2 separate regions of the Homo sapiens genome follow, and region 2 is linked to region 1. Evidence: fine-mapped expression QTL. A gene starts in region 1. The other region holds a variant in brackets. All regions are shown on one strand. Distances are between the middles of the regions. Region 1 holds the start of CACTIN (cactin, spliceosome C complex subunit). Region 2 has its middle 2.3 kb from the start of GIPC3.

Region 1 (2,906 bases):
CTGCGACCTCCGCCTCCCAGGTTCAAGCAATTCTCCCTGCCTCAACCTCCCAAGTAGCTGGGATCACAGGTGCATGCCACCACACCCGGCTAATTTTTGTATTATTTAGTAGAGATAGGGTTTCACCATATTGGCCAGGCTGGTCTTGAACTCCCGACCTCAGGTGATCCGCCCGCCTCGGCCTCTCAAAGTGCTGGGGTTACAGGCGTGAGCCACCGTGCCCGGCCAAGATAAATATTTTAAAAGTTAGCTTAAATTACTATCATCCTCCATAAACAGGCCTTCCCAGCCCCGAGTGGTTAGAACTGCACGGGGTGGTGGTAGCAGCCACCATGGGCTAGGGGAGCTCAGGATGGGACATCAGCGTCTTCTAGGTCTCTGGCCTCCAGCCTTGCCCCTGAAGTCCGTCCTCCCACGCCAAACTTGTTTCAACAGCAAGTCCCCCAAACCCTGCTCACAACCCTCCCACGGGTCCCCAGCACCCACACCACAAAGCTGGGCAGCCTGGGTTGAGAAGGCAAGTGTTAAGAGTGACTTTCCCTCTCTGAGCCTCAGTTTCCCCGTCTCTAAAATGGGTTGATGGGGGAATACAGGGAGTTATCAAAGTTTTTGTTTTTTTTTAAAGCTTAACTCCCAAAATACATAGGTGTTCATTGGCAGGTGGTGGAGCATAACGATGACTCTCATAAGAAGGCTTTTCAGTTTCTGTCCCCGCGCCCGCCCTCTGCCCTCTGGAGCTGCCTGGCACCTAACACCTTCCCGGTTCCTCGCCTTTCGGGGACCTCGCTCCCCGGACACGCCTCTCCTCGGCCACGCCCCTGGCCACGCCAATGAAGCGCTACTTCCGACCTAGACCCGCTTCTTATTGGTCTCGCCTCGGCAGGCCCCTCCCTGCACAAGGTTCCTAGTTTGCCCTTGCCCCGCCCACAGTTTCTCAGGCCCCCTGAGGCGTGGGGACCCGCCTAGGGCTGCCTCCAGCACTGCCTGAAAGGAGACTCCGCCACCCTGGAGGCAACAATCCCACTGGAGTCAATCACGCGGTCCACATTTGCAGACGTAGTGGAAAGTCTGGGGTGTCGGAGTCCTTGCGGGCTGGGGCGACGGGATGGGTTGCTCTTTCCCGGCTCAGGCGCAAACGGGGCAGCCTGGAGAGCGCCGTGGGCGAGGAAGGCCCCCAGCGCAGGCTTCGGCTATTGGTGTTGGTGCCGCGGCCACTGGCCCAGCCGATGGGTCGGGACACACGCTCGCGCTCGCGGTCCGCGGGTCGCCGGGGCCGAAGGCGGCAGAGTCAGAGCGGGAGCCGAAGTCGGAGCAGGAGCCATGGGCGGCGAAACCGACGGCGCCGGGAGGACGAGGGACGGCGCAGACGGAGGCGGCGGAGCCGGGAGCGCAGGTGGGGTCGCTGCGGGAGCAGCGCTGGGGATCCGGCTCCTACCTCAGGAGCGCCCGACCGAGGGTTGGAGATCCCGGGGAACCGGGAAACCCCCGACTTACTCGGGGAGGGCTTCCTAGAGAAGGGGACAATTGACCACCGGTTGGAATTAACCTGGCAGCGGAAGGAAGGCGAGAGGCGTTCCAGGCAGGGGACCGGGCGGTTGGAGGGACAGCCCGGAGCCGGGTGAGCGAGGCGGCGGGGAGGTAACGAGAGATCAGATCATATCATATCGAGCCCTGTGTGCTCAGCACATTAGATCTTGGCTATTAGTCGGAGGGAAATGGAGAGTCTTGAGAGGAGTTTGGGTAGGGGAGTGACGTGGACTGACTTAACTCTGCATACTTTCTGGCTTTGAGGTGGAGAAGGGATGGAGCGGGGTAGGCAGGAGCGGCATCAGAGTAGGACGGCACAATTGTCCAGACAGTAGATGATGGCAGTCTCGATGGGAGGGAGGCTGTAGTCAACCACAGCGGGCAAAGTGCGTAGATTTCAGAGGGATTCTGGAAGTAGAGGAGACAACATTTGCTAATGGAGGTGGGCTGTGGGAGGGAAAAAGACTCGGTGTCAGCTGGCAGGACTCACAGCTGATTCCTAGTGCCTGAATCTCAGCTTCCCCATGGTCCTTTTCTTCTGGAGATGGGGCACTTGGTCGGATTTGCCTTGAGCCGGCTCCAGTACAGAGAAACCAAAATGGGGACAGGGACTGATTCCCAGACCGGGGCCCCAGTGCTGGCTCAGCCCCTTCGTGGCTGACACTCAGGCCAGTCTTGCCCCGCTCTGGGCCAAGTTCACTCATCGGTTGTTGGTTTTTTTGTTTGTTTGTTTTTGAGACGGAGTCTTGCTCTGTCGCCCAGGCTGGGGTGCAGTGGCACGATCTCGGCTGTTACCTCTGCCTCCTGGGTTCAAGCGATTCTTCAGCCTCAGCCTCCCCGGTAGCTGGGGTTACAGGTGCTTGTTGCCACACCCAGCTAATTTTTGAATTTTTTCGTAGAGCTGGGATTTCTCCATATTGGCCAGGCAGGTCTTGAACTCCTGGCCTCAAGTGATCTGCCCGCCTCGGCCTCCCAAAGTGCTGGGATTACAGGCGTGAGCCACCGCGCCTGCCCATAAGTCTTGTTAATGTCATCTTTGTGTTTTTTCGCCTACCATTTTCTGGTATTGGAATTATTCACAATAATTTGCCACTCTAGATATGTAATTAGAATTAATGTTCACGAAAATTCAGTTGAACTTGTGGCCAATATTTAAGGGCTCTGCAATGATTGGTTTCAACATAGTTTAGATTTTTTTGACATGAGCTTAATGGGTAGAGCATTTAACAAAATATTTGGCAGTTCTCTGTGTACAAAGACCCCTAAACGTGACTGAGCGCAGTGGCTCACATCTGTAATCCCAACACTTTGGGAGGCTGAGACAGGAGGCTTGCCTGAGCCCAGGAGTTCAAGACCAGCCTGGGCAACATAGCAAGACC
Region 2 (2,906 bases), 43 kb after region 1:
TGATTTTGGAGACGGAGTCTAGCTCTGTCGCCCAGGCTGGAGTGCAATGGCGTGATCTCGGCTCACTGCAACCTCCACCTCCTGGGTTCAAGCGATTCTCCTGCCTCAGCCCCCCTAGTAGCTGGGATTATAGGCGCACACCACCATGCCTGGCTAATTTTTGTATTTTTTAGTAGAGACAGGGTTTCACCATGTTGGTCAGGCTTGTCTCGAACCCCTGACCTCAGGTGATCCACCTGCCTTGGCCTCCCAAAGTGCTGGGATTACAGGCGTGAACCACCGCACCCGGCCGCATTCAGTTTTTTAAAATTTAATTTAGAAACATGATTAATTTTTTGTACAGTTGGGATCTCACTGTGTTGCCCAGGCTGGTCTCAAACTCAAGACCAGGAGGTTCAGGCCATCCTTCAGCCTTGGCCTCCCAAAGTGCTAGGATTACAGATGTGAGCCACTGTGCCCAGCTTCTCTTCAGCATTTAAAGCTACCATCTGACATATCAGATATTTTATTTTATTTTATTTTTTGAGACGGAGTCTCTCTCTCTTGCCAAGGCTGGAGTGCAGTGGCACGATCTCGGCTCACTGCAACCTCTGCCTCCCGGGTTCAAGCGATTCTTCTGCCTCAGCCTCCTGATTAGTTGGGATTACAGGCACCTGCCACCATGCCCAGCTAATTTTTTTTGTATTTTTAGTAGAGACGGGGGTTTCACCATGTTGGCCAGGATGGTCTCGAACTCCTGACCTCAAGGAATCCTCCCGCCTCAGCCTCCCAAAATGTTGGGATTACAGGCTTGAGCCCCAGCCCCCTGCTGATATTTCATTTCATCTTTTGTCCTGTTTGTCCCCAGGACTGGAGGAATGTCAGCTCCAGGAGGGTGGGGGCTGTTCCCCTGCTCTGTCCCCATGCCCAGTGTCCAGGGCACAGTGCCTGGCATACAGCAGGTGCCCAGTGATCTTTGGTGAGGAATGAACGGATGTCCAGGTCACAGATGAAGGAGGAGACCCCAGGCACCAGGAGGCGTTGGTAAAAATCCGCTGGAGTGCAATGTCAGAAACACCTACGTATCCATCAGATTCCTACCCAGGAATGTCGGCTCAATAAACAGCCATCCTGCCTGCAGTGGCGGGCCCTACAGCAGAGCCAGTCACAGCCTCCGCCCAGGAGGAGCCTCACAAACTGAACATGGGGAGAGAAAAGAAAGTGGCAGGAGGGTTTGGACGAGGTAAGAAATTTTATGTAAGGCCGGGCACGGTGGCTCATGCCTGTAATCCAGCACTTTGGGAGGCTGAGGCAGGCGGATTGCTTGAGGTCAGGAGTTCGAGACCAGCCT[G/A]GACAACGCAGTGAAACCCCATCTCTACTAAAAACACAAAAATTAGCCAGGTGTGGTGGCGCACACCTGTAGTCCCAGTTACTCGGGAGGCTGAGGCAGAATTGCTCCAACCTGGGAGGCGGAGGTTGCAGTGAGCCAAGATCATGCCACTGCACTCCAGCCTGGACAACAGAGTGAGACTGTCTCAAAAAAAAAAAAAAAAAAAAAAGGCCAGGTCTGGTGGCTCACCCCTGTAATCCCAGCACTTGGGGAGGCCAAGGAAGGCAGATCACAAGGTCAAGAGATCAAGACCATCCTGGCCAACATGATGAAACCCCATCTCTACTAAAAATACAAAAATTAAATTAGCTGAGTATGGTGTCATGTGCCTGTAATCCCAGCTACTTGGAAGGCTGAGACAGGAGAATCACTTGAACCCGGGAGGCGGAGGTTGCAGTGAGCCAAGATCGCGCCACTGCACTCCAGCCTGGGACAGACAAGAGCGTGACTCCGCCTCAAAAAAAAAAAAAGAGAGAGAGAGAGGGATTCACCTGCCTCAGTCTCCCAAGTAGCTGGAATTACAGGCATGCACCACCATCCCTGGCTATTTTTGTATTTTTAGTAGAGACCGGGTTTCACTATGTTGGCCAGGCTGGTCTGGAACTCTTGGTCTCAAGTGATCTGCCTGCCTCGGTCTCCCAAACTGCTGGAATTACAGGCGTGAGCCACTGTGCCCAGCCCACACAGCTTTTTGAATGTACCAAAACCTACTGAATTGTATACTGAAATTTTTTTTAATAAAAAACTGCTGCAAAATGCTATTTTCCAGGCCTGCCTAGAAATGAGAAACTCTAAATTTAAGGTGGTGGTACCTGTGCCAGGACAGGGTGAAACTGGGGTGGGGAGTGAGGGGGGTTGGCAGTATCAGGTTGTCTGACTCGCCCATGATGGCTGTAACAAAGCACCAAAAACTGGGTGTGGTGAGGTGGCTCTTGACTGTGATCCCAGCACTTTGGGAGGCCGAGGCGGGAGGATCACTTGAGCCCAGGAGTTTGAGACCAGCCTGAGGAATAAGGTGAGACCCCATCTCTACAAAAAATACAAAATTAGCGGGGTGTGGTGGCACACACCTGTAGTCCCAGCTACTTGGGAAGCTGAGATGGGAAGATTGCTTGAACCCAGGAGGTATAGGCTGCAGTGAGCTGTGATGGCATCTCTGCACTTCAGCCTGGGTGACAGAGCAAGATCCTGTCTCAACCACAAAGAAACAGCTGGGTGCAGTGGCTTATGCCTGTAATCCTAGCGTTTTGAGAGGCTGGCCCAGATGGATCGCTTGAACCCGGTAGTTCAAGACCAGTCTGGGCAACATAGTGAGACCCCATCTCACAAATACCAATAAATTGACTGGGTATGGTGGCTCATGCCTGTAATTCCAGCACTTTGGGAGGCTGAGGTGGGTTGATCACTTGAGGTCAGGAGTTTGAGATCAGCCTGGGCAACATGGTGAAGCCCCATCTCTACTCAAAATACAAAAATTAGCCAGGCTTGATGGTGAGTGCCTGTAATCCCAGCTACGTGGGAGAATCGCTTCAACCCG

Evidence for each region. PIP is the estimated chance that this variant, and not a neighbour inherited with it, causes the effect.
Region 2: its variant is fine-mapped to the expression of CACTIN in whole blood (TOPMed, PIP 0.93).

Annotation. Positions count from the first base shown.
Region 1 is chr19:3,625,083-3,627,988 of GRCh38, reverse strand. CACTIN (cactin, spliceosome C complex subunit) reads left to right here and starts at 1,199. Exons shown (of 10, transcript NM_001080543.2): 1 at 1,199-1,393. The coding sequence starts at 1,227. RefSeq lists enhancers at 866-1,235, 1,125-1,686, 1,687-2,248, 2,249-2,810.
Region 2 is chr19:3,581,703-3,584,608 of GRCh38, reverse strand. No RefSeq gene overlaps it. Among named protein-coding and RNA genes, the nearest start is that of GIPC3, 2.3 kb to the left of the region's middle. The variant G/A (reference allele first, on the strand shown) is at 1,331.